Regions from separate parts of the Homo sapiens genome. Here regions 2, 3 and 4 are each reported to be linked to region 1. The links are microRNA targets in miRTarBase. Many come from high-throughput screens and were not tested one by one. Region 1 holds a microRNA gene; each other region holds the end of a gene's coding sequence.

Region 1 (8,087 bases):
AAGACCAGGAACAAGGCAAGGAAGCCCCTTCTTACCAATACTTTTCAACATCATATTGGAAGTCCTAGCTAATGCAATCAGAAACCACCCCCCACCGCAAAACAAAGTAAATAAAAGGTATACAGATTGGAAGAAATCTGTTTGTTGCCAGATGACATCACTGTCTAATCCCAAAGAATCAACAAAAAAACTCCAGTAACTATTAAATAATTATAGCAAGGTTTCAAGATACAAGGTCAACTGCTTTCCTATATTGCAGCAATGAACAAATGAATGACTGGAACTTGAAATTAAAAATACACCACCACTTACATTAGCATCAAAAAAATAAACTTAGGTATAAATCTAACAAAATATGTACAAGGTCTATAGGAGGAAAGCTACAAAACTGATGAAAGACATCACAAAGGATAAAACTAAATTAGCGAGATATTCCATGTTCATGAATAGGAAGGCTCAGTACTGTTACAATGTCAATTCTTCTCAGCTGGATCTACAGATTCAACACAATCCCAATCAAAATCCTGAATTATTTTGTGAATATTAACAATCTGATTCTAAAGTTTATATGAAAGGGCAAAAGACCCAGAATAGCCAACACAATATGGAAGGAAAACACAAAATTGGAGGATTGACACAACCCAACTTCAAGACTTAATATAGGCCGGGCGCAGTGGCTCACGCCTGTAATCCCAGCACTTTGGGAGGCCAAGGCAGGTGGATCATGAGGTCAGGAGTTTAAGACCAGCCTGACCAACATAGTGAAATCCCATCTCTACTAAAAATACAAAAATTAGCGGGGCGTGGTGGCGCATATCTGTAATCCCAGCTATTCAGGAGGCTGAAGCAGGAGAATCGCTTGAACACAGTAGGTGGAGCTTGCAGTGAGTCGAGATCACGCCACTGCACTCCAGCCTGGGCAACAGAGCGAGACTGTCTCAAAAAAAAAAAAAAAAACAACTAATGTCCACACAAACACCTACACATGGATATTTATAGCAGCTTTATTTATTTATTCATAATTGTCAAAACTTGGAAGCAACCAAGATGTTCTTCATTTAAGAGATGAATGGATAAACTGTGGCACATCCATACAATGGAATATTATTCATGCTAAAAGAAATGAGCTATCAATCCACAAAAAGACATGGAGGAACCTTAAGTGCATGTTACTAAATGAAAGAAGTCAAAGGCTACATACTATAGGATTCCAACTGTATGAGATTCTGGAAAAGGAAAAGTTATAGAGACAGAAAAATGATGGGTAGTTGGTAGGGGTTGGTTTGCAGGGAGGCAGAGACGAACAGGTGAGCACAAGATTTTTTTTTTTTTTCTTTTCTTGAGAGAGGGTCTCACTCCATTGCCCAGGCTGGAGTGCAGTGGTGCAATCACGGCTCACGGAAGCCTCAATTTTCTGGGCTCAGATGATCCTCCCACCTCAGCCTCCCGAGTAGCTGGGGCTACAGGTGTGTGCCACCATGACCAGCTGATTTTTTTTGTATTTTTTGTAGAGATGGGGTTTCACCATGTTGCCCAGCCTTGTCTCCAACTCCTGAACTCAAGAGATCCACCTGCCTTGGCCTCCCAAAGTGTTGGGATTATAGGCATGAGCCACCATGTACAGCCACAAGGAGATTTTTTAAGCAGTAAAGTTATTTTCTATGTTACTACAATGTTGGATACATGGCACATACATTTGCCAAAACCAGTGAAATTTACAACACCAAGCATGAACCCTAATGTAAACGCATACTTTGAGTGATAATGATGTGTCTACGTTGGTTCATCAGCTGCAGCAAATGTACCACACTGGTGTGGACAGTGGGGAAGCCTGTGGGTGTAAGGGGAGGGAGTATATGGGAACTGTCTGTATTTTCCACTCAACTTTTAATAAACCTAAAAAAGAGGGAGGGGCCACGACTTTCATTCACATTCTAGGAGACAGTGGGAACAGCAGCTGTTCATAAGGACAATACTAGTCATGGTAGTTCATATCTATCATATAACCACAGAAATTCCTTTCATTGAGGCTTAGAGCAAAAGAAGAAATAAAGATTATTCTGATGACAGACAAAACAAGGAGGAAAAGAAGCTTAAATCCAGTGATCCTGGCTAACTATCAGCCAACAACAATGGCAAAAACTAAGCTGCCAAGTCTCATTCCAGAGTCAGGTCTTCAACTTGTAGGCCAGAGCTCCCAGAATGTGTCTAGGGATAAAATCATAATAATCATCACAGTCACATGATAGGTGAGCTCTGCCAAGCCTAATAGCCTCTGTGCATCTCTCTACCTTTGCTTCTCTCAGAAACTCTTCTCTTCTGTTGCTTGGAAAGAATTAGGAATCTTTTTTCAAAACAGCTTCACAGCTTCTCTCTAAGATTTGTTCTAGGAGAAGGGAAATGAAAAGTATGATTCAACAGTTCAGTGAAGATACTGAACAATGGGAATCATTAGCAAATCTATCAGAAAAGCTAATTCGGGGAAGGTAAAAAAGGGCAAGTTGCAAAGAAGGAAATGATTAAATTACATTTCAGTCCTGAAAAATCTGTTTAACTTGAGACTTTCTAATTCAGAATGGCCATCTCTGACTGTGTGCTGCTGGGAAGATGAAATAAGAATGGGGTTGGGGATGTAAACACTCATCATCCTGGAGACACAATTACTATCTTTCTGCTTGGCTGTTATATGAACCTGCCCTGGGCTTTCTAGTCTCAGCTCTCCTGACCAGCTGAGCTGGAGGAGAGCTGAGACTAGAAAGCCCAGGGCAGGTCCAACTGAAAAACTTATCAACTTTTCAAACAGATTGACAGTTGCTTTGGGCTGGAGGGATGTGAGAGAGGGAAAGGGGAAGTGACTGCTGATGTGTATGGGGTTTTTTAGGAGGTGATAAAGATGATATGAAATATCTAGATAGAGGTGATGACTGCACAACTCTATATACTAAAAGCCATTGAAATGTATACTTTAAATAGGTGGCCTGTATGGTAGGTGAATCATATCTCAATAATGCTGTTATTAAGAAAACACTATTCAAATAAATGTCTATCAATTTGTGAAGTAAAAAATGGTAATCCTATTTTTTGGATCCATTTCATTTCCTTAATAATTAAGAGTATTGGTGAACATCTTTTCATTTGTTTACCAGCTCACTGTGTATCTTTTAGATGGTCTACTAGTGTCTTATGTACATTTTAAAAACCTTTGTTATTTTAAGGTTTTTTGTTGTTGTTGTTGTTGTTGTTTGTTTTTTAGATGGGGCCTCACTATGTTGCCCGGCTTGCCTTGAACTCCTGGCCCTTAAGTGATCCTCCTGCCTCAGACTTCCCAGTAACTAGGACAACAGGCACATGCTACCCTACCTAGCTTTGGTTACTTTAACTTTTCTCTTATGGATTATCTGAGCTCTCTGTAAATAAATACACTGGCTTCTGTTTACAAAAAATAATTCTCAGAGCAAGGGAACCATCTTCCCTTTCTGAGTATATCTGCATGGCATCCTAGGAAGAACACTTAATCTTCTTTCCAGAAAGCTTCATTCAAATGCAGTCTTAAAATCTGTCCTAAGAAAGGGGTATAACTAAGTACTCAGTCACACTCACTCTAATCATCATTTAATCTAATCTGAAATCACAGTCAATGTATCCTATAGCCTGGTACCTGGAAAAAGTCCCTGATGACAAATAAGAAGACTTCTTCCATGCTTAGAAGTGTCCCAAGTTTCTCTGAGTTCTCATTTATGATTCTGACATTGAGAAAAATGCCCAAATATATATGTGTGTCTGTCTGTTTAAAATTATAGCTTTACTGAGATATAACTTACAATTCACCTATTTTAAAGTATACAATTCAAGGTTATTAGCATATCCGCACAGTTATGTAACCATCAGCAAATAAATTTTACAACCACCATCATTACTGTCTAATTTCAGGCATTTTCATCTCCCCTAAATACCGTACCCATTAACAGTCACTCCCTTTTACTCTGTCCCACTCCTGCCCTAGCCCTAGGCAATCACTAATTGCTTCTCCTGGACATTTCATGTAATGAAATCATATGGTAGGTGGCCTTCTGTGTCTGGCTTCTTTCACTCAGCATAACATTTTCAAAGTTTATCCACGCTTATTGCATGTTTCAGTACTTCACTTTTTTTTTTTTCTTCCCCAAAGAGACAAGGTCTCATTCTATCACCCAGGCTGGAATGTAGTGGTGCAATCACAGCTCACTGCAGCCTTGAACTACTGGGCTCAAGCAATCCACCCACCTCAGCATCCCTAGTAGCTGGGATTACAGGCACGAGCCACTCTGCCTGGCTTCATTCCTTTTTATGACTGAATAATATTCTATCATATGTTTATAACTGAACCATAGGTTCATATGAGAATTAAATAGTAGTTTTTATTTTATAGAAAATATACTGTGTGGAAAACCAGCAATCATAAAAGGACTTAAGATAAATAGAATTATTTCCATTGTAAAGAAAAAGTAGGGCTTCAAAGACTAATTCTGAGTGTATTATCTATAGCTGAAATAGAGTCTTCACTGTTTCCTGAGGCTAAAAGATATGAAGAGTATTAGGGAACGTCATTTTCTGCAAACCACAAAAATAAAATCCCAAAAAAGCACCACGTGGCTGTCTATAATTCTGGCATAGGAAATGTTCTGAGTAAGGCACTTGGTCTATCATGTTTAGGCAGTTTAATAACTACTCTACCAGTCATTTAATCTGATGCTGAGATTAATCATTAAACAAGTTTGCAATATATTTAACATGAATTAAAGGGTAAATATTTTCTAAATACAGACTTCAATGGTTACGTGTCTTATTTGTAGGAATTAGGCCCCCAAATAAACATAATTTTATTGTCCAATAAACTCCTAAAGGCTCCAAAGAAGGATAATATTAGTCCACATGCAAATCATGAACTTTAGGGGCAGACCTGAGAAAGACTCTACTGAGGCCAAAGGCACTGGATCAGGCCAATATAGCAATGATAGTCTGAGAGTTCAACAAGAAAAGTAGCAAGGCCTGGAATACAGTGTATGAGGAAAGGAAAAGAAATAGCTATGAAATTTTTTTTTAATTTTTAATTTTTAGAGACGGGGTCTTGCTGTGTTGCCCTAGCTGATCTCAAACTCCTGGGCTCAAGTGATCCTCCTACCTTGGCCTCTCAAAGTGCTGAGATTACAGGCGTGAGCCATCATGCCTGGCAAACTGTGAAATATTCCTATGTATCACAGCTTCATAAAAAAATTTTCTCAAAACAACAATTCAAACCAGGATTACATGGCCACAGCACAGTAAGGTTTATAACAGGTCAAAAAAGAAAGAGAAATTGGCCAGGTGCGGTGGCTCACGCCTGTAATCCCAGCACTTTGGGAGGCCAAGGCAGGTGGATCACGAGGTCAGGAGATCGAGACCATCCTGGCTAACACGGTGAAACCCCATCTCCACTAAAAATACAAAAAAAAAAAAAAAAAAAAAATTCTCCGGGCGAGGTGGCGGGCGCCTGCAGTCCCAGCTACTTGGGAGGCTGAGGCAGGAGAATGGTGTGAGCCCGGAAGGCGGAGCTTGCAGCGAGCCGAGATCACGCCACTGCACTCCAGCCTGGGTGACAGAGCGAGACTCCATCTCAAAAAAATAAAAATAAAAAAAGAAAGAAAGAGAAATTAACCTGATATTCATTAAAGACACAGCAGTAGATAGAGCCTTCTTATCTGGAATAAGTAGTAAGTGAACAAGGAATCTGGTATTAGCTTTTTTTTTTTTTTTTTTGAGATGGAGATGGGTTCTTGCTGTGATGCCCAGGTTGGAGTGCAGTGGCATGACCACATCTTACTGCAGCCTCAACCTTCTGGGCTCAAGTGATTCTCCTAACTGAGCCTCCCAAGTAGCTGGGACCACAGGTGTACGCCACCCCACACCCAGCTAATTAAAAAAAAATTTGTTTTTGTAGATATGGGATCTCAGTATTTACCCAGGCTGGTCTTAAACTTCTGGCCTCAAATGATTCTCCTGCCTTGGCCTCCCAAATTGCTGGGATTATGGGCATAAGCCACTGCACCCAGCATAGGTTTTCTTTTTCTTTTTTTTTAATTGTGCTAAAAAGAATACAACATAAAAGTTTACCATCTTAACCATATTTAAGTGTACAGTTCAGTAGAACTGTATGTATGTAACAAATCTCAAGCTCTACTCATTAAACAATTCCTCTTTCCCTCTCTCCCCAGTCCCTGGTCACCACCATTCTACTTTCTATGAATTTGACTACTTTAGTTAGCCTCATATAAGCAGAATCATTTACTATTGGTATCTTTTAACATGCTTTGAAAGAGGAGATGCATAACTAGGTAGCGTGCACACAAAGACATTCACAGACATGGCATAAAATCAGAATAATATTCAACTCTACAGGAAAGTAGTAAGGTCTGATGGGAGAATATAACCTCTTGATCTGTCATGGCCAGAATGAAAATGGAGACTCCCTTAAAAAGCCAGTCAAATAACTCAAACAGAGGATAGGGCTCATGCCATCCGGCCTGGTGAGCCTCAGAAAGCATACAGCTTCCATAAGAATACTTTGCTCCCTAATTCAGTAATAATCCCCAATGATTCAATCACATTGCCTTGAACGCACCAGTGCCATCCAGAGTTCAGCAATGAGTTACCACCCCAAAGAAAGTAAGTAAGTTGCTCTTTACTAGGTCATCCTTCCTTCCTCCCATGACACTGAAACCCAGGATTAATCTGGGCTGTTTACAGGGTGGCTGGTGGCTCCTGGATCCCTGAAGTCAAGCTGAGATGCTCCTGTGTGGGTAGAGAAAGAGGGTGAGGCCTGTTTTTATCACCATGCTATAGACTTGCCCTCCCTCCTTCAATACATATGTCCTAATGAAGCAATTACCTGCACTTACACTAATGATGTAATTGGGACAAGTAATTATGAAAGCAGAACATCCATTTTCAAAGAAATGAGTATCATTACCTTTATTCCACCCACAAACATTATTTAAGACAAAAACAAATAAGCTCACAAGAACACATGCTACTGAAAGATTACTAGGAACAGTATTCCAAAAAACGTAGTGTTAAGGAAAAATGGGGGAAAAAAAAACCCCAAACACAAACATCTAGCATTCGCTCCCACCAGGCAGGGATTTCCTCAAAGCCTCTACCTCTGACAAAAGACTTGCAGGTGGATAAGAGTATTAAGAATTACTCTACCTCCACTAATACATTCCCCACAACCTGACACTGCCAATACTTAATCCCAGCAACAGAGGACACTGGCTTAGGTGGGTCCCTAGGTGAAGCCAGGAAAACTGTCAGCCTCTCATCATTATGCAATGCAGCTGCTTAAGGGGGTGCCTCAGCAGCATAAGAATGGGCAAAGAGAGGGGTGAAGGTAGGGAAAAGGACTGAGGGAGAAAAAGGTGAGAGAGAAAGAAAAAGAGAGCGACTGACTCAAACACTAAATGGCTCTCACCAATCACTTGTCTTAAATTGCTGAGACTCCCGCAGCTTTTATTGTTTGGTGGAAGCACAAGCGAGTGGAATTGGACCAGAGGGTCTTTGGCTCGTCAGCAGCAGGAGGGAAACGACCTTTATTGCTGCAAAGAGGATGCAGATTTCAAAAGCCTAAAATCTGCAATGAAGGGAAATGGAAATGTGCTGAACGTGGGTTTGACTGGCAGCTTTCCTCATCTGTCGATCACAGGGTAATAAACACTGGGAGATGGCAGAAATGAAGATAAATGCTTTCAGCAGCACCAGTCCCCACCCTCCCCTCCTCTTCCGCCCCCACTCAGCACATGACAAGAGAGTTAAAGCAAGAAAATAAATCAGCTTCTTAACCAACTCTTTTGTTAAAACTTTCCTTACAGGCCACCTACACGTGAATTATTGCTCTATGAGCCTACATTCACATTAGGGGGCCCAGCTTCTAAAGGGTGAAAAGCTCCTGTCAAATCAGCACCTGTACATTTCAGGGTACAGCATTACAGCTGAGTCAGTTGGGGCCAACATGCAAGAAAGAGGACAGGCCTGCTCCCAGCGAAGAAAGGTGAAGAGCTCCCAAGCCTGCTGAA
Region 2 (7,950 bases), not on the chromosome of region 1:
CTGGTACCTAGAGGGTGAGAGTGAGGCTGCTCATCAACGTGTTCTCCAAGTCATAAGCTGCTGCTCTCCCACTCACGATGCTTGGTGATTCAGTGATGTTTTCCACTTAAAGACAGTGATAGCTGTATCACCACAGTTAATAGATGTCTGATGTGTCCCAGTCACAGAGATAATACAAATGTGAGGAAATAATGCTGGTGCCTGAAAGCATTGGAGACCATTTGTAAGAATGCCATTTGGTAGTTAAAGTGAACATGAAAATTGTTTAGTTTTTCTTGGTTTCATAAACATTTTTTCTTCCTGTAGAACTGATAAATTTCAAACGGAAGAGAGTGGCAGCATTTAGAAAGAATCTAATTGAAATGTCTGAACTGGAAATAAAACATGCCAGGGTAAGTGTTTTCTACAGATGAAGCCAACATCTTTTATGGTTTTTTCCAAGTTATTTCCCAGTTTACTAACCCATTGTCATCAGGCAGTTGGGGTGGCCTTGTGGTATTAATCGTCTGTAGTACTTAGTTGATGGGAGCCACTCATTGTTTATTTGTAGTCTTGTTTATAATGTCACCCATGACTAATTTTTAGCAACTTTTTTTTTTTTTTTTTAATAGAGATGGGGTTTCACCATTTTGGCCAGGCTGGACTTGAACCCCTGACCTCAGGTGATCCACCTGCCTTGGCCTCCCAAAGTGCTGGGATTACAGGTGTGAGCTAAAGCTCCCAGCCCTAATTTCTAGCAACTTTTATTCAATCTTTCCAAGGCCCTTGCCTTCATGGAACAACGCACTGATAGTGTCTTAAGAAGTTACAGTAAGCAGGATCACATTTAGGAGCAAGCAGGTGAGGGCAGAGGTGCTGGAGTGAACGTCGGCTCTTTGGCTGGTAGCCTTACCCACTGAGGGAGAGGAGCTGAAACATGAAATGGGGATGCGTGGTACGTTGCAGTTCACCTGGGATTTGATGAAGAGAAGGGCCAGCTTGCTCTGGCTGACTTTAAACCTCCCGTGAAAAGCCGTGTTGGTGTACTTGAGTCATTCCAGGTATATGGCAAGTTTTAATAATTCACTGGTCTGCCTTGCCTTTTTTCCCCACAGAACAATGTCTCCCTTTTGCAGAGCTGTATTGACTTGTTCAAGAATAACTGATATGCCTTCACTCAGAAGAAAAGAAATGAATGTGAAAGAAAGCCAAGCATCACTTGCACTTAAATCATTACCACGGAAGATATATTAGCTTCAACTTTAGTTTAAAATTATGTGAATAAATATTTTGATTTCTACAAATCTTAACATTTAACCATGTTGGTTTAAAAATATTATTGCTTGCTACTTGGACATAACTAATTTTTCCTTGTGCATTTAATACCTCTGGGCAGAATCCAAATACTGGGTTCTCCCGTAGTTCGTCTTTAGTTACTAAGAAAGGGTGTAGGACACATTAGCCTTCTGGAAACAAGTAGAAGCCATCACCTGGCCCATGTCCCTACAAACCCATGATTGTCAGGGAGGTGCCAGTTACAGCAGGTGATTCAGCTACTTGAGGTCGGTAACAGACCTTCCATTCCTCACTGAAGGTGGGGTTTGTGTTTTTGTTTTGCCCTGTTACTCCACTGGTAGTCATCTGGTGTTTGTACTATAACAACAGCAAGAAAATCTCATTTATCTTTATATACTCTTTGCACCTCCTTTTTTTAGTCGAGATATAAATATTTGAGGGGAGAGAAATATCTACAGGTATATATGGAAACAAATAATGTGGTCTGCTTTATAAGATGGCCAGATCTACATTAGGAAAAGTATAAGCCCCCTCCCTAATGGCCGCTGGGGGGTGAGGGCGGTGTGTTGTATGTCTTTGGGTGTTTGTTTTTTTATAAAGCATATAATAAAATAATCGTGCTACTAATGTACGGCCTGTTTTCGTGGAAACTACAACCAGAGTGTGTCCCAGGAGTGCAGGTGGTGCTAGGGTTTGGCTGTGGTTACAGGGTTTTCAGGTTCTGCCCAGAGTCCTGGGGGCGGTCAGGGGAAATTTGTCCTAGTCTTGACATTCTTAAGTACTCCAGGCCTTTTTTAGATGGTCTCTAAATGTGGGTTTGTCTGTTTGCTCCTGACCTGATGGAGGTTTGCATTTTGGCCAGGGCCTTTACCATAGGGCAGTGGTCCCCAGTCTCAGGTCCATGGCTTGTTAGGAAGAGGTGAGCCAGCATTGCCGCCTGAGGTTCGCCTCCTGTCAGATTAGCAGCAGCATTAGATTCTCATAGGAGTGCAAACCCAGTATTGTGAACTGGGCATGCAACAGGTCTAGGTTGTGCGCTCCTTAGGAGAATCAAATGCCTGATGATCTGATGTGGAATGGTTTCATCTGGAAGCCATCCCTTTCCACACCCCACCTTGTCCATGGAAAAATTGTCTTCCACGAAACCACTCCCTGGTGCCAATGACATGTCTTCAGGAGTTGTGTGTCTATTCCTTTGTTGATGACTGAGCACTTAGGGTGGTAATCTCCTTTACCTTTCTAATAAGTAATTCATGGTAAGACCATGAGACTAAAAACATTTTACCCACCACATTTAGCATCTGTTACAGCCAACTGGTATGAGGGTTGCAGAACTGATTTCAATACATACAGGGAGCATGTTTCTTAACATTTATCTGGTCTTCGTGTCTTGCCTCCCCAGCTATTTACAGGCGGCCACAGTGCCTTCTACCTTCACAGTACATACTTGGGAAACGGTGCACAAAATGAGTGAATTTAAACTTGGCAGTTGTAACTTCAGTCTGGGCTCCTAACCAAATCTGTCCTTCCTACCCATCTCCCCCATAATGTCCACAGCAGCCACCCACACACGCCCAGCATTCTGTTAGTGTAGAGCCAGCACTCCTGCAGTCAGGTTCCTGGGCCGCAGTGCTTGAGCACCAGTGTGATCAGCCCTGATTGGTGGAGCTCTGGCTGTTGGCCTCGGGGCCTTGGTGCATTTTCTTGAGACTAAACCTTGTCAAATGGACAGCAGAGGCATGAATCTTGAGTGCTGGGTCTGCTGCTCACCAAGTGATCTAGGCTGCCTCTCTCAGCTGACTGATCTGTGAGCTGGAGTCAGCACTTCAGAGGCCCCTCAAATTAGTTTTATGCCAGCAATCTCTAATACAGCCTTCATGGATGGTATGATTGTAGATGTTTTACCTGCTGTATTTGTTCCAAGGCTTTTCATTAAATTGCACCTGACAGTCACTTAGGAAATTTGAGGCACTCTGGGTCAGGGATGTAGTCACCTTTCCCCTTCTGTCAGTCACCTAGTGAGTTGCTACCTTTACCTGTATGTGAGGGTGCATTCATAGTGGTCTGGGGTGGGGGGATGGGTTTAGATGCTGACTGCGACCTGTGTGGTGTGCTGAGACCTGGAAAGGCAGGCAGGCACTTGGCAGCAGGAGGAACAGCATCAGGTGGGAATCCACAGCTATCTTGCTGGAGTGCAGGAGAGCATAGGTCCCACATTGAGAAATGGGAATTTGGGTCACTTCAGGGTGATGTGTGGAGAGGCTTTTGCTGTGTGCTTGTATGGTTCTGAGAACTAGTGATCCTCCAGGAAAACCCATGTGGGTGCACAATTCATAGGGAACCCTTGAAGGTTTCTAGAAATGGGAATGGGAAGTGGTTTCAGATGGGCTGCCTTAAGGCATCCAGGCCAAAAAGGCTGTGACTTGCCCAAGGCACGGCTGAGAAAGTTGCCTCGTGGCACACGCAAAACTGCACAGTTCACATGTCATACGATTTCATTAAAAGCTAGGATCCAGCCTGAGAAACAGCGCAACCGTGTCTACAAAAAATGCTAACCTACAGTGGTGGCATACACCTGGAGGGCTGAGGTGGTGGGAGGACTGCTTGTGCCCAGGAGTTCAAGGCTGTAGTAAGTTAAAATCACACCACTGTACTCCAGACTAGACAACAGGGACAACTGCCATCCACCTCCCCTCTCCCCGCCCTCCCCCACTCTGAAAAGCAAAATTAGGAGATTGTCACGAGGAAGGAAAGCACACCCCTGGTCTGTGAAGCCGTTGAGGTCATGTCAGACCACTGGGGTCGTTTGTGGTGACAGAGCACAAGCATTTGGCCAGTTCACCACCCAACACATTCACTTGTGCCATCTCAGGGTTTAGGGGTCTGTTTTCTGAACATTTGCCTTGCGCACCTTTTCTTTGTGAGGTTTCTTTGTGGTAATTCCCAGGCTCAGCTCTGTGAAGGGCGATTTCCGTTTGGAAGGAAACCTTGCACCATCCGCTTTCTGCCTGTAGGCGGCAGGGGCGACCCAGCACAGCCACCTGCCCACCCACAGCTGAGCAGGAGCCTGGTATCCCCGCAGAGCTGCTCAGATTATCAGCTTATAGCTAAGGTAGCAGGAAGAGAAATGTCAGGCTACTTGAGAGTTAAGTAGTTCTGAATGGTGTTTTCCCAGACCAGCAGTCCCCTCCAGGATTCCTGCGGGCTTCAGGTTTCTGGTTACCCAAGACACAACCTCCATTGCTGAGGCCATGCTGTTCGAGAACTCCCCATCTGAGCCTGGTGTCAAAACAGTTGTGATGTTGATGGGGGTTCACAGCCAGGCCATGTGATGTGTCTGGAAGGAAGTTGGGGGTGGTGGACAACATTTGGGCAGTGATCAGTTATGTCCTTTAGACACAGCTGGGTCTGCAAGGTCCAGGGGACGCCCTTCCCCATCCACTCCTCGCACATACACAAGGTGCCCCTTGCGTGGGTGAGCTGCCCACAGTGATTTCTTATTGGAGGTTTGGTTTGTCACCATTCAAAACCATTGACTTTTTTGGTTTTAATGTTTATTTCTAACTTTAATACATGTAGGGATTTAATGAAGTCCCCACATCTTGTAAAACAAAATAACAGTAAAATACCACATCTCAAGAATAAGTTATTAAATGTTTCTAGATTTTTTTCCTATCCGAATAGGAATTGTTTACAAAAAACGATTCAGGATGCCAGCATTGGGGTTGGATTCTGGAGGTTTTCTGCTGTTGGTTCTCTCTCTCCGTGGAGATCCATGGAGGAGTTTTCCTGAGGCCCCAAAACAGCTCTTTTGCATCTTTGTCCTTCCACGGCCTGCTTCCCATGAGGAAGAGGTGAGGGCCCCCTGCAGACAAGCACAGAGGCCCTGAGCCTCCCAGCCTCTTCCCTGCCTTCAGCAACCACCCCACCCAACCAAAGTCTTCATTAGCTAGAAGTTGTGAATGGTTTAGGTAGCTGTTTGGGAGGATTTTAATTTTTAATTGAGCCTTTCTTTTTTTTGGTTGGTTGGTTGTTTCTGAGACAGGGTCTCACTGTTGCCCAGGCTGGAGTGCAGTGGTGCGGTCATGGCTCATGACAGCCTCCAGCTCCTGGGCTGAAGCCATCCTCCCACCTCAGCCTCCCAAGTAACTGGGATTACAGGCACACGCCACCATGCCTGAGTAATTTTTTTAAAAAAATCTTTGTAGAGACGGGTCTTGTTATATTGCCCTGGGTGGTCTTGAACTCCTGGCCTCAAACAGTCCTCCCATCTCAGCCTCCCAAAACGGGATTACAGGCATGAGCCACTGCCCAACTGGGCCTGCCTTATTTTTTAATACATGCTTTACAAACCTCCTTTAAAGCTTCTTAAGTTGTGGGACCTGTAATATTCAGGCCAGGAAAATAACAGCCTGTAATCCTAGTCCACAGCCACTTCTGATAGTTGCCTTCCAGCTCTTATCCACGTTCATTAATACATTTGGTGTGTCCTCAGCTAAAGGAACAAAGGCCTGTTTGGGGGGATTTTTCGCATCAGTCAAAGGGTAGGGATTTGGGGGTTTGGGGTATAGAGTTTCCACTGAAACTTGCTGCAAGGAAATGGAGCAGGAGACTGGCCAGCTGCTTGGGTTTCAGGAACTGTTTATGAACGGCCTTACTTTTTAACTGTTACATTGCAGATCCTTTCCAGTTGTTCTGATGGGGTTTGGAGAGGGAATGGAGGTCATGTGTTTGTTGTTTACCCCATCCTCTCTACATTGCAAAAAGACAGGGAGGGGATGACCCATGCTCTGGACGGTCAACCTAAGACAGGGCAAAGTCAAGGAACAGTTAATAAGAACGGTGCTGTGCGGTGTTAGGCTGTGTATCAGTTACCCCTAAATCAGGCCGGATACCCATAGCAATTCTTGACATAGCTTCCCATTGCTCTGCCCTGCTGAAGTTAGGAGGTTTCTGCGAAGCAGTTGGCACACTTCGCATGAGGGTGGAAACCCGTAGCTAGAGCCAGCCTTCAAGATTCCAGCTGGATGCAGCTGCAGCTCCCGGGGCCTCTCAGCTCCTTGGATTTGTTGATTGTATCATGATCCCGTGATTCAGTCCTGTTGGGAGGCAGGTGGCTGGACATTTATCTGGGGGCAGAAAAAGTGTCAGAAGTAGGAGAAAGAATACACAAAAAAGACCCTAAGGGGAGGAGAGGAAAGGAGCCAGAGAGAGCCTGCAGACAGCAATGTAGGAAGCCCCATTCCTGCCTTCCTATGAAGCTGATCTTGGCCTGCTCAGCGAATGCCTCAGAAGACAGGAAATCCCAAGCCTGCAGTCTCGAGAAAAACATTGGAAACGCCTGCTGCGAATCCCAACAGGGCTCGCGCTATGTGTTTTTCTAAAGTCTGGTTCATGTCTGCAGTGCTTTTGACCCCTTTTGCACTGTCTGTTAAAGCACTTGTCGCCATAGGAGGGGGCGGGGGAGTGAAACTGACCAGATGTGACTCGCCTCAGAATTGGGGGCAAGAGGTGAAGCTGGTGTGAGGGGAGGGGCTACTTGCAAGGGTCCTTGTTGCAGGGAAGAGGGAAATAGGGTCCAGAAGCTGGGATCGTCATGCCAACTCCACCACCAAGTACTAGGCTGGGGTCTGATTTCAGTTTAGTTTAGGGCTAGGTACAACCTAAGGAAACTCCCAGACTCTGCCTTCACCCCCTACGTTTTATTCACTTGCAACAGCCAAAGGAATCTTCTTCGCACATGAGTCAGATTGTGACCCTACTCTGCAAATACCCTTCATGACTCCCTGTTTGACTCAAAGCCCCAGTCCTTCCAACAACTACAAAGCCCTACGTGATTTGATGTCCCCAACTCCAACGTTGTATTTTCCAACAATATTTCCAGTCCCGTATACTCTTCTGTAATGTGATCTTGCAGCTTTCCCATCAGAAGGAATCGGATCCCCCTCCTCTTGAACCTGGGTTGGCTGGAATGGCACATGTGTAACCCACCAGAACAGGACAGAAGTGACGCTGGCGGGTAACCTCCAGGTACAGAGCGGAGGAAGCCTTGCTCTTGGGCCACTCTCTTGGAATGTGGTTGCCATCCGTGAGGACCCACGCCAGATACAGAGGTCCCACATTCCAGTGAAGCCCCGTCTTCACGTCCTCCCAGCCCAGGAAGCAGACAGGTGAGTGAAGACCTCTCCAGAGCAGCAGTGTTCATAAGGACTTTCTGTGTGACGGGAATGTTCGGTATCTGTGCCGTCCAGCCTAGTGGTCGTTAGCCACATGTTAGCTGGGATTTAGATAAAACATGGAACACTGCCAAATTTGAATTCCATACAACAAATAATATAGTGTAATACATACCATGCAATATTTGGAACATAGTTATTCTAAAAAAAAATTTGTTGATTATTTAAAATTCGGATTTCACTGGGTGTCCTGTATTTTTATCTGCCAAGTATGGCAATTCTCTCTTTTGTAAAAATTATTTTAATTTTTTATTTTTTACAGAGACAGGGTCTACCTGTATTGCCCAGGCTGGTCTCGAACTCCTGAGCTCAAGGGTTCCTCTCACCTCGGCCTCCCAAAGTGCTGGGATTGCAGGCGTGAGCCACTGCGCCCAGCCAAGTCTGGCACTTCTCTATTAAGCACCTGGAATGTGGCTGGTGCAATTGAGGAAGCTAAGTT
Region 3 (7,875 bases), not on the chromosome of region 1:
TAGTGAAAAGACTGTGGTTCTCATTATGTTATTTTGTACTTACTTAGATGTCTAATCTGAATCTTCATTATGTATTCTGAACCTAACAGTTATGTTTTATTTATAGGATGTGGGGAAAAGAGAATTTGTCGAAGATGGTGAGGTAGATGAGAGTGACATAAGTGATTTTGAGGTGAGCTTTATGGGTAAAAAGATTGTCCTTTGGCCTGCAGCAAAAAAAAAAAAAAAACAAAAACAGGGAGGTGGCCAGGCACCGTGGTTCACTCCTATAATTGCAGCACTTTGGGAGGCCAAAATGGGAGGATTGTTTGAGCTCAGGAGTTCGAGACCAGCCTGAAGAACATAGTGAGACCTCATCTCTAATAAAAAAAAAAATTTTTTTTTTTAGATGAAGTTTCGCTCTGTAGCTCAGGCTAGAGTGCCATAGTGCAATCTGGGCTCATCGCAGCCTCAGCCTCCCGGGTTCAAGCGATTCTCCTCCTTCAGCCTCCCAAGTAGCTGGAATTACAGGCATGTGCCACTCCACCCGGCTAATTTTTTGTATTTTTAGTAGACACGGGGTTTCACCATGTTGGCCAGGCTGGTCTAGAACTCCAGACCTCTGGTAATCCGCCTGCCTCAGTCTCCCAAAGTGCTAAGATTAGAGGCATGAGTCACAGGGCCTGGCCTAAAATTTTTTAAAAATCATGACCAGGCGTGGTGGCTCACGCCTATAATCCTAGCACTTTGGGAGGCCGAGGTGGGCGGATCACATGAGGTCAGGAGTTCGAGACCAGCCTGGCCAACATAGCAAAACCCCGTGTCTACTAAAAATACAAAAATTAGCTAGGTATGGTGGTGCATGCCTGTAATCCCTGCTACTTGGGAGGCTGAGGCAGAAGAATCGCTTGAACCTAGGAGATGGAGGTTGCAGTGAGCTGAGAGCGCACCACTACACTCCAGCCTGGGCAACAGAGCGAGACTCCGTCTCCAAAAAAAAAAAAAAAAAAAATTAAAATTCAGCTGGATGTGGTGGCGGTTGCCTGTAGTCCCAGCTACTCAGGAAGCTGAGGTGGGAGGATTGTTGACTACAGCAGTTTGAGGCTGCAGTGAGCCATGACTATGCCACTGCACTCCTGCTTGGGCAACAGAGCAAGACCCCGTCTCAAAAAAAAAAAAAAAAAAAAATTAAAGAAAGGGACAATTTCTGAACACAGACATAGACAAATCAATGCCCTAGTCTGTTCTAGATTGAGGGGACAAGGAAGGGAGTTTGGAGAAATCTAGTGTTTTCCCTCTTCCTTTATCTTTTCTCTCCCCGTAATAGGATATGGATAAACTGGATGCCAGCAGTGATGAAGATCAGGATGGTAAATCCTCCAGTGAGGAGGAGGAAGAAAAGGCCCTTAGTGCGAAACACAAAGGCAAAATGCCCTTGAGAGGACCACTGCAGAGAAAACGAGCCTATGTGGAAATAGAATACGAGCAGGAGACAGAGCCCGTGGCCAAAGCCAAAACCACGTGATTTCCCTTTCAGCATTTATACCCAGGACTGAACATGCAGAACTGTTTTTTTTTTTTTTTTATCTTAAACACATACACACCTCCAGTTTTTGCTCTTTTGTGTTGTACTGAACACAATATTTGTGTTTTTATTATTTATGCCACGTCAGTGGGGCAAGAAATCTGGAGTGAGTGAAGAAAGCTAAGTTGTGAACAAGAGTGTTTTTATAGCATATGTGTTGAAGTAACAGCTTGTGCCCGAGAAACTTAACAGATGAGTTCTTGAATCTGGGATGAGATGACGGATGTAAATATTTCTAAATTTTAAATGCTACATTACTTGGTGTCCTTTTTTCTCCCAAACTTTATTTAGAAATGGAAGGAGTTCAATTTTTTCTTGTTCTACTTTCCCTATTCTTATGGAGGTAAAAGGAAAGGAAGGAAGGAAAAAGCAGCTTTCACTTACAAAGTTTCGTGTAAAAATATCTTTTTTTCTTAAATAACTCCATTCATACAAATTGGGATGGGAAGAAAATCCTTTCCTCTTGGGAAAGTAATACAAGTCTTAAGTTCCATTGTAGGGTGCGCCTTCAGAAACCTGCTGCACTTTTCTGATATAGTTCACCACTTTTCTGTCTTCACAGCTTTGGGGAATTTTGGCCAGGAGACCCTGAAACATGAAACCAAACAGGCTTTGATATTTTTTTTTTTTTAATTACTTTCCCCTTTTGCTTGATTCTTCTTCCTTGGTATCATATTCAAAGGAGGAAAGAATGGATGACACTTAGGGACAGGTCACTAAGCAGAATAGGTATTAGTTGGTTTTTTATTATTTTTAAATTTATATAGCTCTCATGTATTGAAGGTGCTACTTTAAAAACTGTGTTAATGTACTTGCAAATCTCCTGCTGGCTCATGAAACAGCAGAATTCCAGCCAAGGCAAATTCAGTTGGATCTAGGGCTTGAAAACTGCCCAAGATTAAAGAGCTAAGATGAAATAGTTTGAATAAACTGGTAAAATAACAATTCATACTATCTCTACATATTTTTAGGATATGAATTTTTTTTTCCTGCTGGGTAGATTGTCCAGTGACTTATGGCATGAATTTCTTTTCATGCTACCTTCAATCTTCAACTAAAGATTTCTAAAAGGGGTAAGAAATGAGGCAGTAGTTTATTAAATACATAGAAGTACACAGCTATTATATGCTGTGGCTTTGAGAAGTTAACTTTTGTGGAATATGAAACCAAAGGAAGAATTTCCATGTAGATAAATTAAGAATAGGGAAAAACATCTACCTAAAAGATGGTTGTCCCTAAAAAACTGGAAACATCTGAAATGCTCTATTTATGTTATTATTCCTGGGAGCTTATAGCCCATTATTTTTACTTTTTTTTTTTAATTCAGAAGACTAGAACAGAACTTAAATTTTACAAACTTTTGATCATAATGCTTTTGCCCATACTGTCTCGTCCTTAGCCCCAGTGACATGTGCTGATCCTCCTGCCTTTAGTTCTAAATGGTTCTGAATAGCTTTAAAAGATGAATAAGAAAAAAGATCAAGCTCTTTTGAGGCTAGAGGGCTCATATGGAGATCTAAAACCCTCCATGTTCATTTCCAGACTTGGTCAGGCACATACATAGTAAATTATAATCAATCATGGGAATTACATAAGGATAATGAGGCCCAACTGAAACCAAGTTTCAGTCTGCCTTACCTTTACCCGTCCTTGAGAACAGCGGTCCAGGAGAATCAGGCAGTCTGTGGCCTCCTGTAGCAGGGCGCTCTTAACAGACTCAGGTGTAAGGTTTGGATCCCTTGCTACATCACAAATCAGTTTCAAGAGGGCCTTCAGTAAGACCACAAGTCTGCAGGAAACTCTGGAATCAGGAAGAAAAGCTATGTTCATACTCTAAATCTGGATATTAAAATTGGAAGAGACTTCAAAGACTGTCAAGTGGAAAGCTATCATTTCCTAAATTAAGGAACTTAGGTCAAAGTTAAATGAAAAAGACCTAAAAACAGAACCAAAGACAGCCTCTAGATTTCTTACCCTCAAGTCTCCTGTTAGCATACTGCCTATACACACAGACACACCCTCTGCCACACTGCTCTCTTCCTTCCAGAAGCTTGGTTCTACTGTAAGCAACAGCTCCTTCATGGGCTGAGAAGGGGAAACCAGGATCTCCCCAACCAAGGGCCTATACTTTTATTTTTCAACTCTATTAACTGAACTATGCTTGGAGAGAGCCCTGAATCCTTTAACTTTAATGCCATCTTAGGCCTGGAAGTTAGAGTGAGGGAAATGAGCTTGGCTTCTGGGACTGTGTCAAGTTGAATTTTCTGTCATTTAATTTCAGATCCTAGCTCATCATCAGTGAAGTCCAGCCTACTTACTTGTAACTATTAACCTTTCTAAAAGTTTTCATCGCCTTGGTAAAGCTCCAGAAATGGACAATGCTAGTGACTGCACAATATTGTGACTGTACTTAATGCCACTGAACTGTACACTTTAAAATGGAAAATTTATATGTATTTTTACCACAATAAACAAAAAACCCTAAAAAAACTTTAATGAAAGGTGGAAAATAATTTAACTTACAATGTGAAAATACAATGTGAAATGTACAATAAATCATATTTATGGACAGATGCGTGACTGGGAGAAAAAAGTTTTCATCTCTATCTAAATACTCCTCATTTTCCTATGGTTTGGGTGCCTCTCAGCCCTCGTTATTCAACTTATAATCGGCTCTGTTTTCCATTTCCCATGCTTCACCCCCTCATACGCATACACACATATTCCTTTTCTACCTCCCTACATTTATTCACTCTCCCTTCTTGGAATCTTGGTCTCTGCTCTTTAAAGACCTGACAATCTGATTCGATTTTATTCATCCATTGATTCATTCTCTTCCAGTCCATTCATTCTTTGAATATTTGTATACCTAATACTAGGTACTGAACATACTTTGGGAGAATATAATAGATGTGGTTTTCCGTTATCCTGGAGATTATAATTCCGTAGGGAGAAAGATAGTAAACAAATGCAACCTAGTTACCAATATGACTAAGGGAAAGGTTGTCATGGGGAAATGTTACTCTGGATTCCTTGCACATTTATAAGGAAGTGAGAGAATACGGTGCAGAATAGCTACTGTATGTTGTTGGGGCACTAGATTCTCTGGCTGAATTCAATTTTCAGCTATGCAAGAGATGCTTCTGCTGACTCCACAGTTTGGGTTCCAGTTCCTGACACCTACCTCAAGCCAGAGTTGGAATGATTTCCAAGCAAGTATATCCTACATTAGTATGCTTTTTTTAAATTTTTATTATTTTTTTTTATATTTTGAGACAGAGTCTCGCTCCGTCACCCAGTCTGGAGTGCAGTGGTTCCATTGCACCTCACTGCAACCTCTGCCTCCTGGGTCCAAGTGATTCTACTGCTTCAGCCTCCTGAGTAGCTGGGACTACAGGTGCGCGCCACCATGCCCGGCTAAGTTTTGTATATTTAGTAAAGACGGGGTTTCACCATATTGGCCAGGCTGGTCTTGAACTCCTGACCTTAGGTGATCCACCAGCCTTGCCCTCCCAAAGTGCTGGGATTACAGGCGTGAGCCACCGCACCTGGCCTCTAGATTGGTATTCTGATCACTGCTCTGCAGATGTTAAATGATGTGCTATGAAGTACTCTATTCTCAATTAGATTTAAAGAACATTAGGATTAACAAAGTTAAGCAAATGTTTTATTGCAACACTTCTAAATGACCTTTAATCTTCTAATATGCATTCTAAATCTAGAGAGAGGTACAACCTGTATGGTTTCCCAACCTATTTGACCACAGAATTTTTTTTTTTTTCCTGTGGGGCATCAAAGAGTACCTAGATGGAGATTCTGCAAAACACCAATCTAAACCATTCTTAAGATATATAGCCAGGCACAGTGGCCCACGCCTATAATCCCAGCACTTTAGGAGGCTGAGGAGGGGAAATCACGAGGTCAGGAGTTCGAGACCAGCCTGGCCAACATGGTGAAACACCATCTCTACTAAAAATTTTTTAAAAATTAGCCAGGCATGGTGGAGGGCACCTGTAATCCCAGCTACTCAGGAGGCTAAGGCAGGAGAATCACTTGAATCCAGGAGGCAGAGGTTGCAGTGAGCTGAGATCGCGCCATTGCACTCCGGCCTGGGTGACAGAGCAATACTCCATCTCAAAAACAAAAACAAAAACAAAAGGCTGGGCATGGTGGCTCACGCCTGTAACCCCAGCACTTTGGGAGGCCAAGGCGGGTGGATTACAAGGTCAGGAGTTCAAGACCAGCCTGGCCAACATAGTGAAACCCCATCTCTACTGAAAATACAAAAAATTAGCCGGGCCTGGCGGTGGGCGCCTGTAATCCCAGCTACTTGGGAGACTGAGGTAGGAGAATCACTTGAACCCAGGAGGCAGAGGTTGCAGTGGGCAGAGATCGCGCCACTGGACTCCAGCCTGGGCGACAGTGTGAGACTCCATTTCAAAAAAAAAAAAAAAAAAAACAAAAAAGATATACTAGAGTTTCAAAGAGAAGCGATTTAACTGTCAGAATCTGGAACTGATACCTGGTAAAAGAGTCAACTATGAGCACCTCAAGTAACTATAGTATATTTTATCTTTCTAATGCCATTTTCTCAGTTTAAAATCCTATAGGTGTGTGAAAATGGGAGGTATTCAAATACATAGTATACATTTAATACTTTGTACTGAATGTATTAAATACATCCAAGCAAGTTCTCAAGAGAAAATCGGCTGAGTTTTGCACCTTAAGGCTGCTATTACCTGGGCCAAGTATGTTGCATGAGAAGTTTTAGGGTTTCCAATATCTTCAGTCTAGCTTCCTCCTCAGGTCCATCATAAACCTCCAGATAACCAATGATGACTCTCTCCAGCCTCTTTAAGTGCCGGACAGTTAGGATCCCCAACCTAAAGATGAAAGAGAAAATATGACGCCAGTGCAGTGGCTCATGCCTGTAATCCCAGTACTTTGGGAGGCTGAGGTGGGAGGATTGCTTGAGGCCAGGAGCTCGAGAGCAGCTCAAGCAACATAGCAAGATCCTGTCTGTATAAAATAATAATAAATAAAAGCCCAGGGCCTCACCTGTTCACGAAAGCCGGCAGGTTTCTTGCGTAGGTCCTGCGTAAAAGAAGGCGGTGCTCTGGCTCCATGTGGGTCAGGATCAGCCGCAGGACCTCATCACAATGGGTGGTGGGTCGAGCTCCATCTCCTTTCCAGTGCAGGGTTTTCTCCAGGATGGGGAATAAATCCAGCAGACACAGGAGCACAGCCTAGGAGGAAGGAATGGAAGGACGGTGCATAGTTCATCCATTTGCATTTACAATACTCACTGACTTCTCTAGAACTTCATTAATCTACCGTCCTTAGGGTCCATACCAGAGAATTCTAAGATACTAGTAATCATATATGAACTGCACATTACTTTACATTTTCAAACTTTTTTACATTCTTAATCTCCATCTGACAGTCTCAAATCAATACATTCTCCTCAGGACCATTCTTTGCTAATTTATAAAATCGGAAAAATGGCAGAGCTGGGACTTTAATCCAGATTTTAGGAATCTAAGTCTACTGTTACTATGTCACTAAGTCTAAGTGACTTAGTGATACATGATATTTACACATTTTTTTTTTTTTTTTTTTTTTTTTGTGAGACAGAGTCACTCTGTCACCTAGGCTGAAGGACAGTGGTGCAATCTTGGCTCACTGCAACCTCCGCTTCTCAGGCTCAAGCGATTCTCGTGCCTCAGCCACCTAACTAGTTGGGACTACAGGTGTGCACCACCACACTTGGCTAACTTTTCTATTTTTTAGTAGAGACAAAGTTTCACCATCCTGGCCTCAAGTGATCCACTCGCCTTGGCTTCCTAAAGTGCTAGGATTTATCCCTAGGCCAGGGGTATCCAATCTTTTGGCTTCCCTGGGTCACAGTGGAAGAAGAATTGTCTTGGGCTACATATAAAATACACTAACACTAATGACAGCTGATGAGCTTTAAAAAAAAAATGCAAAAAAAATCTTACAACATTTTAAGAAAGTTTACAGATTTGTGTTGGGCTGCATGCAAAGCCATCTTGGGATGCATGCAGGCCATGGCTTGGACAAGCTTGGTTCAGGTACTTCCTTTTAACTTTCCTGGGACCTTTGGTTTTTCTCTTGGTGTTTTGGTTTTCTAAAATTTATTTTCTCTACCACCTTAAGAACCCCAGCCTTTCCGGCTGTTACAATCTGGATTCTCAATACCCAGTATTTAAAATACTGTAAAAAGAAAAAGAGGCTGGGTGCAGTGGCCTATGCCTGTAATCCTAGTATCTTGGGAAGCCAAGGCGGGCGGA
Region 4 (8,053 bases), not on the chromosome of region 1:
AAAACACAAATTGCTAGACGCACTGGCAGAACTTCTGATTCAGTAGGTCTGGGTAAGGCCCCTAAATTTGTATTTTTAACAAATTCCCAGGGATGCTAATCTTGTTAATCCGGGGACCACCCTTCAAGAACCTTTGATCTAAGCCATTCTGTTGTGACATGTCTGCTCATAGGTGGTACGGTGATGGCCCAAACACAAAAATTTTTATAATTAAGTCTAATTCCAGGCCATTCTTTTAAGTTACTGTTTTAAATAATTTTAAATTTAGTGATTAAATAGAGAAAATGGATTTTGTGCCTTCTTACTAGCATTACCATTTCATAGATTAATCAGCTTCTGAACCCTTATTTTCTATAAAAATGAGGAAAGCCTTAGCTTTATAGGTTGGTTTTAAGGATTAAGTGTCTTTATGTGAGAAGCACTCGGCAAACTCTGTTTAGTCATGTTAAATAAAAAATATATGTTTTTTTTTTTCAGAGTCTAGCATTCCAGAAACTGGGGATGGAATCTAGACTTGTGAGCGGCGGTGGTGCCTGCAGTGACACTGGTGCGTGCACTCCTGCGCGGTCTTTCTTAGCGCAGCAACGGCACATCACCAACACCAGAAGAAATCTCTCTGTTAAAGTCCCTGCTACAACATCTGATTAAACTGCAAAAAAAACAAAACAAAACAAAAAAACCACATAAAATAGAAGTGTCCTTAAAATATTTTGTACCTTTCAACTAACTACCAGATTGAAAAAGAGTTTATGATGCGGGATATCAGGTATTTTAAAATCAACATGCATCAAATTAATTTTGCCAGTTGACTTTAAAAACAAATTATAGAATTAGCCATCTCTCTGAGGGAGCACATTTGAATAATTGGAGATGCAGTTATACACACATTTCAAACAAACATTTGTCTTTTGAGAGTATTATAATTTCAAATTGGCCTTGTATATTTTAGTTAAATGTTTTCAGTTGTATTAGTAACTTAATTAATTTTCAATAGCTATTCAGTAATACTTAATCTTAGAACATTAATTGGATTTGTTTAATCTTTTTTTGTTTTTTGTTGATTTATATGAAAACAGTCTTGAGGCAGGGACATGGAGAACTATGCAAGGGTGATTTCTTTGACTTAATATATACAAGGCTTTACTTCTGTCCCCTAATTCTTCCATTGAATGTGTACCTCTACCTTGTCATGTCATGGAAGATACAACATTTGGAAGATCTGACAATTGGAATGACTTTGGAATAATAAAATTGACTAATTGGAAATTTTGCATATTCTGAAAATCTAATCTCATAGTTCTAATTTGTACCTATGGCAAATAAGGGCTTCTGGACATCATGTTTAAAATGTTAAGCATAAGAAATAAACTGACATTTGTAATAGGTGACTTTCTGATGGAAAGCAAGCTATATATATATATATATATATATATATATATATATATATACTTTTTGTGAAATGTCTATATACTTTTTAAGGTAATTAATGAAGATTTCAGTTATTGCTTTTAAGCATAAAGTTGTATTTAGCTTCTGCTGAAAAATTGTATCATATAATAATTTTGCTTCATTGAAAAGGGATGTTGCAGTGATGAAACAAGGTGGGATCAGTTTGATTTTGTTTACTTATTAAGGAGTTTATCTTGGGCTCAGTTTGTGGTATTCAGTTCGTTTCTGCCCAAAGCTCTTATTTTCAGAGGTGTTACTTTTGAACTTTTGGGGTCATTTTTAAAAGTTAGCACTTTTGAATTTTAGTTGTGTTAAATATGTGCTGTCGTATATCATAGCCATGAGCCATATATGACAATTTAAATTTAATTAATTATAAACTCAGTCTCTTGGTTGCACCAGCCACATTTCAGATGCTCAATAGCCACATGTGGCTAGTGGGTACCATATTGGACAGGGCAGCTATAGAATATTTCCATCATTGCAGAAAGTTCTATTGGATAGTACCATAATCTTTTTATAGTAACTTGGAAATACTATTTGATATTAGATGTTAGACCACAAAAAGAAGAAAAATGTTAGGACTATTTCAGATATAAAAAGGAACTGAATTGTGACATAATTAGCATCTTACATTCCATACAGTTGAATACCTTATGCTGTGACAACCATAGTTAATCATTTCAGTGCTGTTCAACATACATACCTATCAGCAGTGTGTTTAGACCAGGGGTCTGCAAACTTTCTGTGAATGGACAAAGAGTAAATACTTTAGTAAATGTCTTAGGCTTTGTGGCCTACATGATCTTTGTTGCAAGTACTCAACTCTGCCATTATAGAGTTAAAGCAGCCATACACAATATATAAACAAAATGGGCATAGTTGTATTTCAGTAAAACTTTATTTACAAAGACAGGCGGTAGGCCAGATTTGGCTTGCATGCTGTAGAGCTGTGGTCTAAATTTTATTCATAGACTTTCTTTGCAAATACAGTGTGAGTATTGTTCCATTTACAGTATTATTATTTTTTAGATACCTGGTTTTTAGATTCTTGCCTGGTAACTTTTTACTGAAAATACAAGAATTTCGTACTGCATTTGCATCTCCGAGATTAGGGAGCACCTGTCAGGATATGTTGTTCTATCAGGGTTACTTCTGTTGACTACCTCTTAGATTTTGATACAGTTATATTGTTGAGTTTCATTTTCATATATTCTTGTAGTGTCTGCTTGCCTGTGACTTCTGGTAAAATAAAATAAGCCTTTGAAAATATTTTAGCATGGTATTTAACATTTTCTAAATATTATGGCATTTTGACATATTTTAGTCAGCGAAGACATCTGCCCCTTTGGTGTTTCTACTTGCTTATGATTGAGATTTTACAAGCCCTTCAAACTCCGTTTTAAAGGAATTTATTGTAAAACATTAACTTTAATAAATTAGTGTTTTCACAGATCAGATCATTATACTTGGAACTTCTAAATCATGCAATTTCTGAATAAGGACATAAGGCTAGATTCATTTTTCTTAATAGAGAAAAAGGAAATTTCTGATTTATCACTTTTCTAGTTGATAAGTAGGATTCAAAACGTTTGATATGTAAGTATTTATATAAGACTAATGTAATTTAAAGTTCTGTATTATTGTGATTAATCATACAGAAATTCAGGAACTGATCAGAAGTGAGATTCTTTTCCACATCTGGTTAATGTAGTGAGTTGACACCCTGTGGGTGGTAAAGCATTATAAACATTTCATCTTGAACCATGATTTATACACATCTGTGTTATAAGGGAGGCTTGAGTACATATACCAATGAAGAGATATTCAGCATTTGTCTATTTGATAAGGAATTAAATGTCCTAGTGATTATAAAGTAAAACCACAGACCAATTTGCAAATGATCTTCAATGTTAAGCACTTGCTCTAAGATTAAAATTCCTTTTCTTTTTAAGGTTAAGGGTGTGTACGTATGGCAGTGATGTCTATGTTGAGATTAACTTATGTATTGAGGAAAATTTGAAGTTTATTTTTTCGATGAATAAGGCTGTCAAATGATTTAGTATAGATTAATGACATCTTTTTTAGAAATATTAAAGTGAGTATTCCTCATTATGTCATCATTTCTGATAATTAGAGTGCTAATTTGAATGTTAGATAATGTTTCCACATCTATACCTATTTCTTTCTAGGGCACTTCTGACCCTGGGGCTTGGGGATGGCCTTTAGGCCACAGTAGTGTCTGTGTTAAGTTCACTAAATGTGTATTTAATGAGAAACATTCCTATGTAAAAATGTGTGTATGTGAACGTATGCATACATTTTTATTGTGCACCTGTACATTGTGAAGAAGTAGTTTGGAAATTTGTAAAGCACAAACCATAAAAGAGTGTGGAGTTATTAAATGATGTAGCACAAATGTAATGTTTAGCTTATAAAAGGTCCTTTCTATTTTCTATGGCAAAGACTTTGACACTTGAAAAATAAAACCAATATTTGATTTATTTTTGTAAGTATTTAGGATATTATTTTAAATAAATGATTGTCCATTATCAATATAATAGTTGTGAAATGATTTAAGTAAATAAACTTTATGCTTCTGTGTCTGTTGATTTTGATGGGTTTTTAGTGGGCATAAATGCATGTTTATTTGCTGCATTAAATAGAGGAGTGAAAATATGTAGGTTTGTAAAGAAAAAGTAATTGCATTCTTCTAATTTTGTTTTTCCTTTTAATTTTTTGGGGAATGAAAAGATATATTAAATGATTTGGGAATATGTCTTTTTATGTCTCCATTTTCACCTCTGGAACCTAGACATCTTGCATTAACACGGAATCAAAACATTTCTGGGGCCGGGCGTGGTGGCTATGCCTGTAATTCCAGCACTTTGGGAGGCCGAGGCAGGCAGGTCACTTGAGGTCAGGAGTTTGAGAACAGCCTTGCCAACACGGCAAAACCCCGTCTCTACTAAAAATACAAAAATTAGCCAGGTGCAGTGGCAGGCGCCTGTAGTCCCAGCTACTTGGGAGGCGGAGGCACAAGAGTCGCCTGAACCGGGAGGCAGAGGTTGCAGTGAGCTGAGATTGTGCCACTGCACTCCAGCCTGGGTGATAGAGTAAGACTCTGTCTCAAAAAAAACAAGACATTCCTGGGTAATATAATTTTAGAGACTGCTATTTATCCCTGAATATCCATTCTACCCCTCTTAACTTTAGTGATGGAATCCCATATTTTAGCTTGTTACATTATTATCCAGGAAAAAAAGAGAAAACCAAAACTGTGCTTCCCAGATTCCAATATAACTAGGTGGGGTACAGCTTTGTTCTAGATATCTAGCTTGAATGTACGCAATTCACATTCTTCTGAAGTTCCAGGGGATATGGAACTTTCAAGCTTCTCTCATTGTCTTTGGCTTTTGACAGCTTGACTATCAAAAAGATGATGAGTTGTGGATCTAGGTGTTGACTTCTTCAAATTTATTCTATTTGCAGTTTGTTGAGTTTGGATCTGCAGACTAATGCTTTTCATTAAACTTGGGAAATTTTTGACTATTATTTCTTGAAACATACTTTCTTCCTCTTTCTATCCTTTTCTCTGGTACTCTCATTATGCACCCGTTTTTACTTGGTGTCCCACATGTCTCCAAGGCTCTGCCCATTTTTCTTCATTCTCTCTTGATTCTGCTCCTCAGAATAGATCATCTCATTGATTTATCTTCAAGTGTATTGGTTCTTCCTCTGCCAGCTCAAATGTGCTGCTGAGTTCCTCTAGTGAATTTTTTGTTTCAGTTATTGTACTTTTCAAATCTAGAATTTCTAGTTAGTTGCTGTTTTCTATTTCTGACTCCTTATTGTGATTTTCTGTTCAGTGGAAAATCATTTTCATATTTAACTTAATTCTTTATCCAATAATTAATTCTTAGGCTCATAGAACATACTTAAAGCTTTTGTCTAGTAAATCCAATGCCTGGGCTTCTTCAGGGACTGTTTCCAGTAACTTCTTTTTATCCTGTCTATGAGCCATTGTTTTCTGTTTCTTCACATGATTCATAATTTTTTATTGGAAATTTGGCATTATAAGTAATATGTGGAAACTCTGGAAATCAGACCCCGCCCCACAGTGTATTATTGTTACTGTTATTGCCTTTTGTTTAGAGACTTGAACTAATTCTGTAAAAATTCCATTCTTCATCATGTGCAGCCACTGAATTCTGTGCTTTTTAAGCAAAGTATCCAGCTAATTTTGGACAGCGATTTCCTTGAATGTTTTGAAATAAGTCTCTCAGCCTTTCCCAAAGGGCTCTGCGTGTGTTTTGCATTATACCTTCAACACTCCAGCAGGTAGTTTACAGTTCTATTGTAACCTTAGTTTCTTGCTTACACAGACCCTCACAGTCAGCCAGAGATGAGAGATTCGAGTCTTTCCAGGTCTTTGCCTGGGTATGCATGTAGCCCTCACATGTGCATGGTCTTCTAGATTCCTAGGCATATGTTAGAGTGTTAGAAGCCCCGGTGGGCATCTCTATTTCCAGTTTATCCTTTTAATCCTCTGTTTTAATTCCAACTTGTATTGCTACCTTGGGTTACTGTAATGTTGCACAATTGTCACTGATTTTTTTTTTTTAACAAATGTCCTGTAGTGTGGTTTGCACAGAATCAGCGTTTAGTAAGGTAAAACAAAGACAAGTTCTGAGAATGGGGCTTTTCAGGGAACTGCCAGAGAGGTCATATAATGACAACTTTCTGGGAATGGGGCCTTTGGGGTGCTCCAAACCCATTCTGCTCCCTCCAGTGGCTGCTTGATCACGGGTATTCACAGCTACCATAATTGTGAGACTGTTGCTTTTAAGGATACTTGAGAGCTGGGGAGAGGAGAACCGGCATAGGGCAAGTTAAAACAGAGCTCCCTGTTTTTACTGAGAGCAGCTCTTCTTTTTTTAAACAAATGCTCAGGTTGTTTTGAGACTTTAATTTTCAGCATTCTGAAAATGTTGATTTTGATTATTTTTGCTCACGTTCTCAGTGCTTTTATGGAATGGATTTTTGGAGCTCCTTAAGTTACCATTTCAGAAGTTCTCGCCACAAGTCAGATTTTTGAAAGTAGGAGTGACCTCAGTAACCAGTATTTAAAGCCCACCTTTTCCAGAATGTGAAATTAAGAAATATAGAGGTTCATGGCTTGCTGCATGGCTACGGAAAATTTATGGCACACTGCAGCATTAATGTCACTTGGCTGCTTGCTCTCCCCTACCCCTCACCTCCACTGTGTGTCCAACAAACATTTCCTGAGCATCTGCTATGCATGAAACAGGTACTGAATGTGTGTGAACAAGACACAGTCACCTCTGAAAAGCTCATTTTAATTGGGAGATTATATGGAAATAGGAAATAAAACCTTTTAAATTAAATTCTCAGGGAATGGAGGAAGGAGCAACTAACCAAGAGTCAAGAAAAATGTCACTGGAGAGCTAACGTTTAGGCTGGCCTTTACAGGATGAATAGGAGTCTGCCAGGTATAATTAAACATTTCTTGCAGAAAAACTAGCTTCTGTAAAGACATGATGAAGGATCTGGCCTATTTAGGGAAGTAATAGTTCAGTACTTTGGCAGGAGAAGTACTAAGAGATGTAATTCAAAAGGTGAATAGATTTCACATCATAAAAATTACCATATGTCCACCTAAGGAGCATGCCCTTACATATGGCTATGCAGGCCCTACATCAGGGGTGTCCAATCTTTTCAATCTTTTGACTTCCCCAGGCCATGTTGGAAGAAGAAAAATTGTCTTTGGCCACACATAAAATACACTAATACTAACAACGATAGCTGATGAGCTAAAAAAAAAAAAAAAAAAAAAAAAAAAGAAAGAAAGAAAGAAAGAATCTCATGTTTCAAGAAAGTTGTCTAATTTGTGTTGGGCCGCATTCAAAGCCATCCTGGGCCGCTTGTGGACAAACTTACTCTACGTGATCCAACGCCAGAGGGCACCATTCACCTAGACTACAAGTGAATGGCAGCCTGGGGTTTTACAACATAGCAGCCATACTGAAGAATCTGTAATTTATCCTGTAGTCAGCAGGGAGAATATCTTGTTTTGTGGACACAGTGAGGAAAAGATCAAATTGCCTGGGGAAAAAAAAGGTCTAGAAATAAGTTCTCCAAATTGTATAATAGCATAACTGGATGCTTCTCTGAAATAACCATACAGCATTACTACTGTAATTGATGATTATCATGTCACTTTGATCTCATGTTTTCACAAGAAATACAATGCAGGTGTATCTGACAGCATAGGGTAAGTTATGCTGTAGTAATTTTGAAATTTTAGTTTAGTTTATAACAAAATAGGTTTATTTCTGACATCATACGTTCATCTTGAATAAGCTGTGACTCTGCTTCCTGTCTTTGTCACACTGGACAGACTCTTATCTAGAACACTGGTGGTCTCATGGCAGAGAGGAAACATGTTGCAATACTAGCCAGCTTTCAAGCACTTAGAAGTGGCTCGTGGAACTTTTGCTCTCATTTTATTGATCAAAGCCAATCACACGGCCATTCCTGAATTCATGAAGGTGGTTATACATAATCATCCCACAGGAAGGAG

What was found. The annotated mature microRNA hsa-miR-3160-5p reads GGCUUUCUAGUCUCAGCUCUCC and lies in region 1 at 2,740-2,761, opposite strand. An mRNA with a match to its seed (bases 2 to 7 or 8) in the 3' UTR can be bound and repressed. Matches are read on the target gene's strand: a 7mer-m8 pairs with bases 2 to 8, a 7mer-A1 pairs with bases 2 to 7 and ends in A, and an 8mer does both.
Region 2: the mRNA of SNX5 is a reported target of hsa-miR-3160-5p. Seed matches in the 3' UTR shown: 7mer-m8 at 1,182-1,188.
Region 3: miRTarBase lists MAK16 as a target of hsa-miR-3160-5p. Seed matches in the 3' UTR shown: 7mer-m8 at 1,679-1,685.
Region 4: the mRNA of HOOK1 is a reported target of hsa-miR-3160-5p. Seed matches in the 3' UTR shown: 7mer-A1 at 1,399-1,405.

Annotation. Positions count from the first base shown.
Region 1 is chr11:46,449,117-46,457,203 of GRCh38, forward strand. MIR3160-1 (microRNA 3160-1) reads right to left here and starts at 2,773; the gene lies at 2,689-2,773. All of the region lies in intron 11 of AMBRA1 (autophagy and beclin 1 regulator 1), which reads right to left. It overlaps MIR3160-2 (microRNA 3160-2), which reads left to right and starts at 2,691; the gene lies at 2,691-2,771.
Region 2 is chr20:17,935,552-17,943,501 of GRCh38, reverse strand. It overlaps SNX5 (sorting nexin 5), which reads left to right. Exons shown (of 13, transcript NM_014426.4): 12 at 307-392; 13 at 1,095-1,902. The coding sequence ends at 1,145. Among named protein-coding and RNA genes, the nearest start is that of SNORD17, 23 kb to the left of the region's middle. RefSeq lists enhancers at 2,418-3,009, 2,985-3,074, 3,105-3,194, 4,435-4,564, 4,197-4,790.
Region 3 is chr8:33,497,126-33,505,000 of GRCh38, forward strand. It overlaps MAK16 (MAK16 homolog), which reads left to right. Exons shown (of 10, transcript NM_032509.4): 9 at 107-172; 10 at 1,307-4,137. The coding sequence ends at 1,504. TTI2 (TELO2 interacting protein 2) reads right to left here. Exons shown (of 8, transcript NM_001102401.4): 5 at 6,623-6,810; 6 at 6,304-6,447; 7 at 3,203-3,365; 8 at 1,597-2,152. The coding sequence ends at 2,048. Among named protein-coding and RNA genes, the nearest start is that of TTI2, 12 kb to the right of the region's middle.
Region 4 is chr1:59,872,318-59,880,370 of GRCh38, forward strand. HOOK1 (hook microtubule tethering protein 1) reads left to right here. Exons shown (of 22, transcript NM_015888.6): 22 at 478-4,005. The coding sequence ends at 648. Among named protein-coding and RNA genes, the nearest start is that of CYP2J2, 50 kb to the right of the region's middle.